2 linked regions of the Homo sapiens genome follow. The protein of the gene in region 1 interacts with the protein of each later gene in a pairwise test. Each region holds a gene or a part of one and is shown on either strand. Other genes may lie near its edges.

The links. The genes of interacting proteins can lie anywhere in the genome.
Region 2: the proteins of MSR1 (region 1) and FA2H interact in binary tests that used the Homo sapiens proteins (3 or more experiments, as listed by UniProt).

The regions. Positions count from the first base shown.
Region 1 is NC_000008.11:16,189,639-16,196,916, reverse strand, and holds the start of MSR1 (macrophage scavenger receptor types I and II isoform type 1), read left to right. Parts: upstream 1-4,265; 5' UTR 4,266-4,319; intron 4,320-7,278. UniProt on the Homo sapiens protein: Membrane glycoproteins implicated in the pathologic deposition of cholesterol in arterial walls during atherogenesis. Two types of receptor subunits exist.
Region 2 is NC_000016.10:74,722,818-74,729,843, reverse strand, and holds part of FA2H (fatty acid 2-hydroxylase), read left to right. Parts: intron 1-2,457; coding exon 2,458-2,600; intron 2,601-3,512; coding exon 3,513-3,619; intron 3,620-7,026. UniProt on the Homo sapiens protein: Catalyzes the hydroxylation of free fatty acids at the C-2 position to produce 2-hydroxy fatty acids, which are building blocks of sphingolipids and glycosphingolipids common in neural tissue and epidermis.

The sequences.
Region 1 (7,278 bases):
GTCTCTTTGTTGCCTCTACTGTATTTAGGTTCCCCTACAAACTTCCCTTTCAAAAAAAACCTTGCATCTCTTTCACCTGTCATCCACTGTTATCATACGGGAGCTCTGTTGACGGAGGGGTGAGATGTGGGGGCGGGGTGAGGTGTTCTATAGTCTTCTGATTAAATCTCAGTCTTTTAGTGGGCCCTTGTCCCCGGACTGTGACCTGTGACCTTCATGAGCGTTTCTAAACTTTTTTTTTTTTTTCCTTTTTCTCTGCCAAGTTGAACTGCAGCTGGAAGACTAGAGGGAGCGAGCATTGAATAGTTACCCTTCAGCTGCCTAGCTAAGATAACGCTCTGATAAACTCTTTTCACTGGGGAGTAAGCCTTTGTTACAGGAAATGCTCTACGTATATTTTAAAATCATTAGATTTCCCTTCTCTCTGCCAGGGACATCAGGTGATATTTTTTGGTATATACTGTGAGAACCAAGTTGTATTCCTGGAAGTAAAGCCTGTAAGTGTTTAGGGGGCGCCTTGAAGACTGCAGCCCCCAGGAGGCTCCAGTGCTCACACTGGTCCATACTCAGCCTCTTGCCAAATTCCTGCTTAGGTGTTCCTGCCAGTTTGTGGTTCCACTGGCATCAGCTGCAGGTGATCTGGTGTCTGCTGTGATGCTCTGTAATCTCCTCTCTCTCCCGGTTTCAGGCTGGTAGTTTCCTTGAGACCTCAGTTCTCTGATGGGTCCAAGACGTCATTGATTTTTAGTTTCTCCAGCTTTTTTCGTGGTGTCGAGATATGAGTGATGACTTCCAAGCTCTTTAGATGTTGAAGCTGCAACTAGAAGTCTTCCATGAACTTTCTTTTAAAAATAGACAGTATGGCATAGTGCAGTGTTTCTCAAAAGAAAATAAATATATTGATCTCTATACCTTATTAAGTGTTGATATATTATTTTATTATAATTTTATGTTAAAATAGAGAAACACGAATTTAGACCTAAACACTGTAAGCCTACAGTTCTTAACCAAGTTTTTGAAATATAATGCATATGTTAATTAAATTTTAAAATCTCGCAAAAAAATTAAAATTTTAACTAACACCACCAATTTAAGATTGTGTGGGCAAGCCAAAATATTATTATAGGTTTAATAGAAGGAAGATACTATTCAATTCTGATACTGTCCTTGGTCTGTTTCTGTATTTGACTTCAATAATTCTCATATAGGAAAGTTCTGTTTAATAAGGCTATATAAAATGTTACTGGTACCTTCACAGTTTTCTGCTTATGATTATCAAAGAAAAAGCTCTGCCAATATGCAATTTTTCAATGTCAATTTTATTAAAGAATGTTTTGATAATTCTGTAAATGCTTTATAATCCCACAGCAATATGTGTCCGTTGCAGCATTATTAAAATCTGTATTTATATCACTATTTACTTATTGCTTTGAATTAAGAACATGAAAAATTTTATCTCGAAACTTTATCATATATATATCATACAATAAATAAGTCATAATGTATTAACTATATATTATGACTAACAACCTGCTGTAACTTTAGACATACAAAAATACCTCTTAATGAGTGTAAAATGTTAACTCTTCTTTTGAGTTCAGTATACCTGTACCACAGTGAGTCCTAGGACATTTGAATCAATTCTCTCAAGCCATTTGCCTATTTGATTATGAATCTCTGTTTGGTCACTGGGCATAATCTTACATGGACCTCATTCTAGACACATATATCCATAAGCAACAAAAATAAAGTAATTGGGATCCATCACAATAACTATGAACAAAGTAACTATCCACATGATCTGGAATTTGCCCATATTTGTGGCTTGTTTTCTGTATACTGTTTTTGATGGAGATATTATAGTCCCCTAATAATACATATACCTACTTCAGCTTAAGAAAAAACTATATTTTGCCAAATTTTGTAATCAGACTGGGTTTAAATACCAGCTCTGATGACTCATAACTCTGATCTCGAGAAATTTACTTACCATCTCTAAACATTAATTTCTCAATTAGGGAAGTGATATGACAAAGTTGCTGTGAAGTCAAATGAAGGAATGAATGCAAAATCCCAACCCTTTACATATTACCTCTGTTCTCAATTAATCATTGGCTTGAACTGAACATTTTTAACATGGTTCCCTGCTAAAGGTGTTTTTACATATAGTAAGACCTAATAGATAATATTATGTTACATAATCTATAATTATTATATATAAAACTATATAAAATTATATAGTACCTATTTAGACATATAAAAAGGGAAGTTTTTTAATGAAAAATTAGATTGGCTGAAGAGTGTGGAAATCATCACATAGGGAAGTGGTCAGCACTGTGGATATACACCAAACAGTATTACAGAGACATACTGAAAATAAAGCACACTGACAGAAAGAAACCTCATTAGGATAGAATTTTGGGAGATTGGTGTCTTGTTATTCCCAGAGTCTGACTTTTCTAATCACGTAGCATTGTCAGGGATATCTAAATTTTAAACTTCAGATTTTGTACAAAAAAACCTAAAAGGACTATATTTTAAAATAAGAAGCATGTACAAATAATTGTAAAGGAAAGAGTGTGAGTTTTGTAGTCTCCAGTTCTGTGTCAGTAAGAATTTGATGAGGAATAGCCAATAGCATTTATGCTGGTCCAGGCTGGATCAAATTGTGATCGTACTTCTAGTCTTCAAGCTGCCTGGTTAGAAATTATGCAGCTTACTTTGATGCCTGTCCTACTACTACTATTAGCCTTTTAGTGGTTACCTTAAGAATAACTGAATAATACTGTTACTTTGCATCTCTCAAAGACCGTGCGCTGTTCCCGCATACTTTCTTGCAGACGTATTGTCTTCTGAAGGATGGTGCCCATGGGCACAGCAATTTGGGGCATCTTTTGGTAGGAAGCATGATTTCTCCTGTTTGGGCACAAAAGAGTGACTACGGAATATAAGCTAAACACCTTCTCCCAGAAATATCAGTTGTAAAACTTAGCTCATTAATGTAATGTTGAACGTTTTCATGTGAGTCATACTTGAACTTCTTGAATGTGAGTAAATAACGGAGTTGAATTGTATAAAACCCTGATGGATGGCAGAAGGGAAAGAACATCCCTTTCATCTGATCCATGCCTGAGATTCCTTCCCTCTACTATACTACTGGAAATAAACAACTTGTCTGGTGCTCTAAAAATTAATGCTATTATCATTATAGAGAGAACAGGAGTGAGTGCTTTTAGGTTATTACTTGTTCTTACTAAGGCATCATATTCTTTCTTCACGTGTTTTGTGTTTGAGGCTAGGGATAAAGGTACAGGAAAAAGGATCTAAGAAAAAAACTCGAATCTCTAAACATGGAGTCTTTTTTTTTTTTTTTTTTTTTGAGGTGGAGTCTCACTCTGTTGCCCAGGCTGGAGTGCAGTGGTGCGATCTCTGCTCACTGCAACCTCCGCCTCCTGGGTTCAAGCAATTCTTCAGCCTCAGCCTCCCGAGTAGCTGGGATTACAGGCGCATGCCTGGCCAATTTTTGTATTTTTAGTAGAGACTAGTTTCACCATGTTGGCCAGGCTGTTCTAGAGCTCCTGACCTCAAGTGATCCAGCCACCTCGGCCACCCAAAGTGCTGGGATTACAGGCATGAGCCACCACACCTAGCCAAACATGGAGTCTTTACTCAACATTATAGTAACGTGAAAGAGGAGATCATGAGAATTAATGTATGTTTTAGAAGGCATAGATTACTTATAAAAAAGGAAAGATCAGGCTGGGCACGGTGGCTCGCGCCTGTAATCCCAGCACTTTGGGAGGCCAAGGCGAGCGGACCATGAGGTCAGGGGATCAAGACCATCCTGACCAACATGGCGAAACCCTGTCTCTACTAAAATACAAAAAATTAGCCGGGTGTGATGGCACACGCCTGTAGAACCTGGGAGGCAGAGGTTGCAGTGAGCGGAGATCACACCACTGCACTCCACCCTGGTGAGACAGCGAGACTCCATCTCCAAAAAAAAAGGAAAGCTCAATCTGCTGTAAATTATGTGCTTGTTTCAACAACCCTTGTTTCTTTTCCTTTTCACTTCTCTTTTTTTTTTAAAGCGGCCTAAATGGGGTGAAGAGTGAGTTATCTGACAAATTTAGATTTTGCAAACCTGTGCATTGATGAGAGTGCTATTGAAACACATTAAGAAAGATTTTCAACGCAGGAATGTGTCATTTCCTTTCTTCATGTACCAGATGCTGAAATACTATGAGATAAAGATTTTAGGTTTCAATTGTAAAGAGAGAGAAGTGGATAAATCAGTGCTGCTTTCTTTAGGACGAAAGGTAAAGAAAAAAAAAGGCTTATTTTAATGTTTTTTCCAGAATTGTTTCTATTGATTGTTATGTGTGTACTCTGTGTGTGTGTGTGCATGCATGTGTGTGATATATATTTGTGTGTCTGTGTGTGTATGATGAGATGAATGCTTTATTGTATCAGCAATAATTTGGTTTGGTTTTTTTCGATAATCAAAAAATAGGGATTTCTGCTAAATTTTCCATGAGTGAAAAACATATATGTTCACAAGTACATATGAAATACACTAAATGCTTTGTAGTTTGAACCAGCAATGGGGTTTTTTCATATAATTAAGCATATTTTGTTTAAAATACTGGTTTTATTCAAAGTATAATTTGACATATTTCACCTATTCTCCTTTCATAACTTTTCATGGAACATTTTTGGCTTTAATCTAATGCCTTTTATTATCTTCCCTTGATTATATAGCAAATATTGGCTGGGTATCTACTATATGCACTTCATTGAACTAGATGTGGGGAAAGGATACAAAAAATAAGATATAGTTCTTTTTGTGCTCCGGAATCTTATGATTTAAAACATATCCCCAAATAGGCATAATGTAATTTGAGCACCTTAAGTAGTATGAAAGTACTATAGATAATTACTAGCACCTTAAGTAGTATGAAAATGCTATAGATAATTACTATGAAAATATAGGCGAGGCCAAAATTACTTCTATGTGAAAAAAGTCTATCAAAAATAAATCTTCATGGAGATGCTAGAAATCTGATTAATCTTGAAGACTAAGTAAGATTCACACAGCATATAATGGGAGGTTGGCATTTGCACTGACCAGGTAAAAATACTTATAGAAAAACCATAGAACTGAGATTACAGATGTTTTATGCAGTGATTAGCCGTTTTATGCAGTGGGTAAGAGCTAATCTTCTGGGAGTAGACTGCCTGTGTTCAAATTCCAGCTCCCCTGCTCCCTAGTTGAGTAACTTGACTAGTTACTTACACATTTCAGTTCCCTAACCTGTAAAATGGAGAAAATACTACTTGTACCTCATGAAGATTCCGTGAGAACAAAATAAGAAAAGCTCATATTTAAAAAAAAAGTGATATTTTAAAATAACAGGGATTCATATATTGATGGTTTTCTGTGTACCAGGCAATTTACAAAAATTATTTTTAATTCTCGCAATAATTCTTTAAATTTATATTGTGATCATATTTTACATATCTAAAGAAAGTTCAATTCAAATAAGTTAAAATATTTGCCTAAGATCACACAGCTAAATGATGTCACAGTCAATACTCAAATCTAGATTTCAGATTCAAAAGTTGATGCTCTTTCTTCTTTGCTACCAAGGATGAATATCAGTGACATCAGGCACAATATAAATATTTCCATTTCTTACTAAAATCTGTCTTACAGACGGGTTCCTTAAGCATAAAGCTGTTAGTTTCACAAATAATCTTAATTTAATTTTCATTTTATATACACATTCAACTGCTGTTACAAAAATCAAAGTTATTATTTTATATAATAAGGAGGATCACAAGCTTATTATTTATTCCAAATGTTGAAGATAAAGTTGGCCTTAAGAATATGATGGGCCGGGCACGGTGGCTCACGCCTGTAATCCCAGCACTTTGGGAGGCCAAGGCAGGTGGATTACCTGAGGTCGGGAGTTCAAGACCAGCCTGACCAACATGGAGAAACCCTGTCTCTACTGAAAATACAAAATTAGCCGGGCGTGGTGGTGCATGCTTGTAATCCCAGTTACTCCGGAGTCTGAGGCAGGAGAATCACATGAACCCAGGAGGCGGAGGTTGTGGTGAGCCAAGATCACGCCATTGCACTCCAGCCTGGGCAACAAGAGCGAAACTCCATCTCAAAAACAAAAAGAAAGAAAGAAAAAAGAAAGAATATGATAAAAAAACTAAATAGGGAAAAATCTTAGGAAAACGAATGCATGTCAAGTATGAAAAGACAGATGGTAAATATGTATTAAACATAAAGAGCTGATTCACATGCTTAGGTAAAAGAAACCTGTGGGGATGTATAAGCAGTGAATATGAATAGATAATAACCCAAGAAGAACAATGTATGACAGACAATTACAGTGAAATCTCTCTCTTACATTAATAATAAAAAATAAAAATGAAAACCACTTTTAGGTATTATTTAACTCTTATCAAAATCTAAATGATTCTAAAATAAGCTTTATTATTCAATGGTAGTGAATTTTGCTTGAAACTGCCATATTCACATATAAGTCTGGAATATTTATAAATTTATGTTATCTTTTTAAAGATCACTAAGACAGTAGAGCCCAAGAAGTTCAAAATAGTTTTCCTTTCACTTTTTAGTTTCACATATGATGAATTATCCTAAAGAAACATTTTAAAAGAAGAAAGCTAAATTATGAAAATAATGGCCGGGGCAGTGGCTCACATCTGTAATCCCAGCACTTTGGGAGGCCAAGGAGGGTGGATCACCTGAGGTCAGGAGTTTGAGACCAGCTGGATGAACGCGGTGAAAAATACAAAAATGAGCTGGGCATGGTGGCAAACGCCTATAATCCCGCTACTCGGGAAGCTGAGGCAGGAGAATCACGTGAACCCAGGAGGCAGAGGTTTCAGTCAGCTGAGATCACACCATTACACTCCAGCCTGGGTGACAAAGCAAGACTCAATCTCAAAAAAAAAAAAAAAAAGGAAATATTTATAACATCATTATTTATATCAGTGAAGCATTGCCCCCTGGGAAAAGGAAAAAAAGTTTAAAAGAAAAAATTATATTTTAGAAAAATGGCTGTATTTTTTATTTAGAAAAATGGCTGTATAAATAAGATTTTATATATATATAAAATATATATAAAATAAGATTTTATATATATATAAAATATATATAAAATAAGATTTTATATATATATAAAATATATATAAAATAAGATTTTATATATATATAAAATATATATAAAATAAGATTTT
Region 2 (7,026 bases), on another chromosome or scaffold:
CATCCTCACTCCGATTGTGTGTGGCAGATTGGGGCCCACCAGCATCACAGATGAGGGCACTGAGGGGCTCCGGGAGGAAAAGATGCACGTCCAGGATCTCACAGCTGGTCAAAGGCACAGCCAGGCTCTAATGGTGTTCCCCTGACTCCAGGTTCATTGTTCTTTCCTGGATTCGGTCCAGATTAACCCAGCACTGGCTTGTCAGAAATCCTCAAGGGCTTCTAGTTGCCTGGAGCTGAAACCTGCAAACTTTTCTGAGCTTGCATCCCTATGAGTGAAACTTTCTGCACACACTCTCCATTATGTGTCCATTTAAATTATTTCTAAAGTATTTGCATGTGTTAATGTACTCTCACAGTCTGTGCATTAGAAAACATTCAAATGCCGTGTAAAGGTGAGATAAAGCCTGCGTAGTGGCACGCTCCTGTAGTCTGAGCTACCCAAGAGGCTGAGGCAGGAGGATCGCTTGAGCCCAGGAGTTCAAGTCCAGCCTGAGCAACACAGCAAGACCCACCTCTTAATAAAACAAATAAGAGGCCGGGTGTGGTGGCTTACGCCCATAATCCCAGCACTTTGGGAGGCCGAGGCGGGCAGATCACGAGGATCGGGAGATTGAGACTATCTTAGCCAACATGGTGAAACCCCTTGTCTACTAAAATACAAAAAATTAGCGGGCGAGGTGGCATGTGCCTGTAATCCCAGCTACTTGGGAGGCTGAGGCAGGGGAATCACTTGAACCCGGGAGGCGGAGGTTGCAGTGAGCTGAGATCGTGCCACTGCACTCCAGCCTGGTGACAGAGCAAGACTCTGTCTCAAAAAAAAAAAAAAAAAAAAAAAAATCAAGACCATCCTGGCCAACATGATGAAACCCCGTCTCTACTAAAAATACAAAAATCAGCTGGGCGTGGTGGTGCGTGCCTGTAGTCCCAGCTACTCAGGAGGCTGAGGCAGGAGAATCACTTGAACCCAGGAGGCGGAGGTTGCAGTGAGCTGAGATCATGCCACTGCACTCCAGCCTGGCGACAGAACGAGACTCTGTCTCAAAAAAAAAAAAAAAAAAAAAGAAAGAGATAAATATATTACAAACACAAATAAATAGAAATAATAGCAATAGAAATAGGGTCGTTAATATTTTCTCCCTGCCTCTGGGGATTAGCCTGTGAGTACCGATGGAGTACACGTACATCCTTGCCTTGGAGACAACAGGCCTGGAGAATAAGCAACTCCTGGATGTGGTACAGGGTGTTCTATCATCTAAGCCTTCAGCAGCTTTTTTCCTGCTGCCCACAGAGCACTGTTAAGGTGCCAGAAAGGCCACAACCATATTCAACTTTACATCTGTGCCCACACTCCCTGTCATCCTTTCCTCTCTCCCCCTTGTCAAATCCCCCATGTTGATGAACTCCAAACCAAAACCCAGATCCTCTGCAAAGCCCTCCTCGCCTACCGTGACCCGGGCATTTGTACCAGCCATTCTGCCTCTGGATCTCAGCCTGCTTTGTATCTCCACTAAACTATCCTGCTTGGCATGCCACATCTCATTGAGCACTTAATGCAGGTACCGTTATTATTTTTTTATTTTTGAAGAGACGGAGTCTCGAACTATTGCCCAGGCTGGTCTCAAACTACTGGCCTCAAGCAGTTATCCTGCCTCAGCCTCCCAAAATGCAGGGTTTACAGGCATGAGCTACTGCAACCAACAATTACTTCCATTTTATAGCTGGGGAAACTGAGGCTCAGAGAGGTTAAGTAATTTTCCAGAAATCACACAGTAAATGGCAAATGGATTTGTACCCAGGCCTGACTTCCGAGTCTAACTGTAAGCACTAAGCTACATGAAACAAGGTTGGCCTCTTTCATTCCTGTTGATTCTTCCCAGCACCTAGCATAGAAATAAATATATATATAAAAAATAAATTGCTGAATAAATGATTGAATGAATTAATTACCCAGGCCAACACCAAGAAGCCTGGGGAAAAGAGCCCACTTCATTCCTGATACAAAATGTATTACCTCCTGTACCTCAAGAGTCCTGAGCAAGACTTTAAACTTCAGATGTGGCTGAATCTGGATGCTCAGATATCATCACTGAGATTCTGTCTCTCTAGCTCTTGGTTTGGCCATCTTCTGTGCTGGTGGCATCTTCAGGCAGGCTCTGCTAGTAAATCCAGGCTCATGCCCTGCCGATTTAGCACCTCCAACAGAAAGAGGGATCATCTGATGGCTCATCACACCAGCTTAGGTCGCAAACCTTTACCGGATCCTATTGCTGTGGCTGGGGGCTGGGATGAGCAGCTTGGTCAGTTCTTGATCACTGAAGCAGGAGGGTGGGTGGCCCCACACAGATCACAGGAGCTGAGGTAGGAGCAGGGGATTGGGATGCTGTAACGAGGAAATGGGAGAACGAATATGGGAAGACGTGAATATCAAACGTCCACTTGGCTTCATCTCTTGCAGGACCTGGTGGACTGGCGAAAGCCTCTCCTGTGGCAGGTGGGCCACTTGGGAGAGAAGTACGATGAGTGGGTTCACCAGCCGGTGACCAGGCCCATCCGCCTCTTCCACTCAGACCTCATTGAGGGCCTCTCTAAGACTGTCTGGTGAGCTCTTCCCTGAGCCTGTGGCAGGCTGTCCCTCTCTTCTGACGGTGCCAATCAGATATGGAAAGGGAGGGGGCAATTGAGTCCCTCCCCAGAGCCCAGGTCTATGCTGTAAAGCTGTCAGGGAGGGAGGAACATGCCATGGGAATAATTCATCCCTATGCATGGTTTTGTCCACTGGGTGGGTCACAACCCAGCATGTAGCCAGAAACTACATTGAATGCCACCTCTGGTCTATTCCAGACTCTTATGAGGAGTTTCTTGCCCACGATGCGCATGGGAACAATTTTGCCTGCAATTAGCTCCTCTGCCACAAGAGGTCAGCATCTGACCAGTTGCATAGAGTCAGTAGCCCTGGGGACACAGTTCTTTTCTGCCAGTAACTCATCTCAGAGACAGGAGGCAGATGGACTCACAGCCTCTCTCCTCTTTTCTCTTCCCCACTCCCTGTACCAGTGTCCCTTTGACCCCAGGTCTCCATAGGCATTCTGCATATGCTTTGGTGTCATCTTGTCCCCAATCCAGTTGAGTTATGTGTCTCTAAGAAAGCTGGACCCTGCCGGGCATGGTGGCTCACGCCTGTAATCCCAACACTTTGGGAGGCCAAGGTGGGTGGATCACCTGAGGTCAGGAGTTCGAGACCAGCCTGACAACATGGTGAAACCCCATCTCTACTAAAAATACAAAATTAGCTGGGTGTGGTGGCACATGCCTGTAATCCCAGCTACTTGGGAGGCTGAGGCAGAAGAGTCACTTGAACCCCAGAGGCAGAGGTTGCAGTGAGCCGAAATCACGCCATTGCACTCCAGCCTGGGCAACAAGAGTGAAACTCCGTCTCAAAAAAAAAAAGAAAGCTGTACTCTGTCAAGCTCCTGTGCATGTATCTCTCTCACCCTGATGGCCTTCCTGCAGGTACAGTGTCCCCATCATCTGGGTGCCCCTGGTGCTGTATCTCAGCTGGTCCTACTACCGAACCTTTGCCCAGGGCAACGTCCGACTCTTCACGTCATTTACAACAGGTAATGCCAGTTTCTTTCCTGACTTGCCCTGAGGATCCTAGAGGGAGGAGACCTCAGTGCTTTCCCTGGCCCAGAGTTTCTGAGAGCACAGAACCCCAAACTACATCACAGACATTTTTGGTGAAGCCTCTCTGTAGAAATAGTCTTCCAAAGAAGAATTTTGTCTGACTCCCATCTACCCCCCAAATGGATACAAAACCCAACAACACATCAGCAGAAACTAAATGGAATCATCGGGTGGCATAGCAATAAAAAAAGAGAGAGAGAGAGATTGAGTGCCTCTCATTGAGTGTCACACCAAAAGACACATGATGTGGGATTCTTTGCTAAGAAACTAAATGAAATCACTTCATCGGGTGACACAGCTGAGAGCTAGACTCGGACTGGCCTATGAACCCAGCACAGATTAGCAGAGAACTTGGGAGAGAAAGATCTGGGAGTGTCCTAGAGTGTGTCCAAGGCAAAGGCTCAGGCAGCAGACCCCCAGACTGGGAGTAATGGCCCACTAACCTCTATGGGACACTTGCCATGTGCGGGGCCACGTGTTCTCCCAGGACCGCCTCATTTACCCCTCCCAGCAGCCCCATAAGAAGGGTCCTGTCATTATCCCCTTTTAGAGCTGAGGAAATGGAGCCTCAGAGATATCAAGGGAGTAGCTGAAAGGCGTGTGGCTAGGATGTGGATACCAGGTGCGCCCCAGCTTCTAGCTGGGGGGCAGAGGATGAAAAGACAGGCTGATATGGGGCAGTGTCTAAAGAGCCTATGAGACTGGGGTTTAGGATGACTGTGGGTTTAAGTATAGCCGCTGGGACAGCCAGCCCCACAAGCATCTTGCCTACCTTGGGCCTCCAGGTACATGCCACCTGCCCTGTGGTCTGTCTGTCCTGGCTCTGAGCTTCCTGAGCTGCCCTCACTCTGCCAGGGGAAGCTCTTTTCCCTGCACTCTGCAAGTCAAGTGCCTGAATGGTTGACATGAGAGGGGCCATGGTCACGGCATCAGGAACTTCATTTATCCACCTGACCCAGGATGAGTCTGGTGAGCGAGCTGCAGGAAGTTCCCCCAAATCCAGCCCAGAGCTCCTCCCGGTCACCGAGGGTTACTGCAGGCATCCCTCGAGCCATGGTTGCCCTGTTCTGCTCACGCTGAATAGCTCAGGCACAGCACGGAGCTTGTTGCTCAGAAGGCCTGCTCGCTGAATCACCCACTGTCCGCCCGGCACTCCCCTAACAATCACAAACAGTGGCAGGGCCGCCAGGGCTGGCAGCCGGAGGGGGAAGGGGATGCTGAAGCTTTGGCCCAGGTCCCTCCGCCGGATTCCTCCAGAGATGCCACTCAGTACCAGCTCCGGCCGGATGGGCAGACAGGGGTGATGCTGGGGTGAGGGGGCGGGCAGAGGCTTGACCTATAGGAGAGGTCTTTCCTGCATGGCAGGGAGGATGATTTGAGGGCTCTATCAGCCACACGGCCTTGGCAGAGAGCTAAAATGTGCCTGTCTTATAAAGGTCCAGTGTAGAGGGTTAGTAAGCCTGTGACCATGATGCCAGTGATGGGGGCATGAGAGATAACGTCTCCACGTGCCTCCCTCAGCCCCCAGCTTGTCATGCAAGGCACAAGCCACAGGCAGAGAAAATAAGAGCCCACAAAGCAAGGCAAGGGGAGACTCGGCGGGATCCTAGTGCAGCTGCTGGACAAAGGACGCACTGGAATCAATACAGAAGAGTCAGGGTGCCAAGAAGCAGTGGAAGCTGAACGCAGACACCAGTTCAAGGCTGACATTCCTAGATGCGCACATGAAAATGCTTTCAAAAGCTGAGGAGACGGGGGAAAGGGGGCGGCGCTGCATACTCAGGATGGCTCCAGAGCAGCTTCTGAGAGCACGTTAGAGCGAGTGGCATCCCTGAGAGGAGGGGAGGCAGGCTTCCAGTGGGGTGGTGTGCGGGGCCCGGCAGAGGCCAGGACCTTAGTCTGCGCCGGAGAGTGCTCCCGTACGTCCAGTCCTTTCCTTACCAACAAGAGAGCTAAGGCCAGGCACGGTGGCTCACGCCTGTAATCCCAGCACTTTGGGAGGCCGAGGTGGGTGGATCACCTGAGGTCAGGAGTTTGAGACCAGCCTGGCCAACATGGTGAAACCCAGTCTCTACTAAAAATATAAAAATTAGCCAGGCATGATGGTGTGTGCCTGTAATCTCAGCTACTTGGAAGGCTGAGGCAGGAGAATCGTTTGAACCCAGGAGGCAGAGGTTGCAGTGAGCCAGGATCATGCCACTGCACTCTAGCCTGGATGACAGAGTGAGATTCCGTCTCAAAAAAAGAAAATATAATATTAATATTATTATATAATACAATGTATATACTCATCATATAATCAGATACTCTGTTACCTCCATCCTAACTACACCCCTCCAAGATGGGTAGGGTGTTTCCCTGAGGAAACTGTAACACCTAGGCGGTGCTGAGCCAGGATTTGAATCCAGGTCTGCAAATCCAATGCCTGTGCTCTCTGCACTTCACCGGAATGACCTTATGGACCCCAGAGGTATCAGGGTTTCTCTGGAAGCAGGGTCTCTCACCAACCAGACCAGCCCAGCTAAGACTCCATGGGAGAGGGGTCACTTGAACCTGACTCCTTTGGTAATATGTGGATGTCAGTAACCACAGCCTCCCAGGAAGGAAACCCAAGAGGAGGTGGGCGGGAAGAAGGAGGAAGACGGTTGGCCTCATTTGGGAGGTGTTCACGGTGGGGACTGTGGACAACCACATGGAGCTGTCCAGTAGGGCGTGGCCACCCAGGGTGGAGTTGGTGTAGAGCTTCGGTCGTCAGCATGTGGGAGAGGAAGGGATTGAGCTGAGAGGCAGAGGGTCCAGGTTTGGACCCTGGGGACAAAGGGCAGAGTTTCCAAGATGGAGCCTGAGCAGGGAGATCCAGGGAAGAGGAGAAAAGCCAAGTGTGGCGGCAGGCAGAAGGGGGAGCTATGGATTCCAACCTTATTGCTCCCGGATCCTTTGAGAATTTGAGAAACTGTGGACACAGTACAGAGAAAAAATGCCCATAGGTGTACAATTTGATATATTAGCAAGTTCACAGACACTCTGCAATCCAACGTAGTACCCTCGGATATTCATAAGCCTCAGGTTAAACGCCTAGGCAGCTGCAGATTGAAGAAGAGAGTAGAGCTAATGTCATATGCCACAGCCAGCTTAGAGGTGGACTAAAAAATATGCTTAGATTTGGCAAGAAAGACATCATGAATAGCCTTTGAAGTTCTGGTGGTTTGGGGCAGAAGACAGATTTTTTTTTTTTTTTTTTTTTTTGAGATGGAGTTTCACTCTTATTGCCCATGCTGGAGTGCAATGGCACGATCTTGGCTCACCACAACCTCTGCCTCTCGGGTTCAAGCGATTCTCC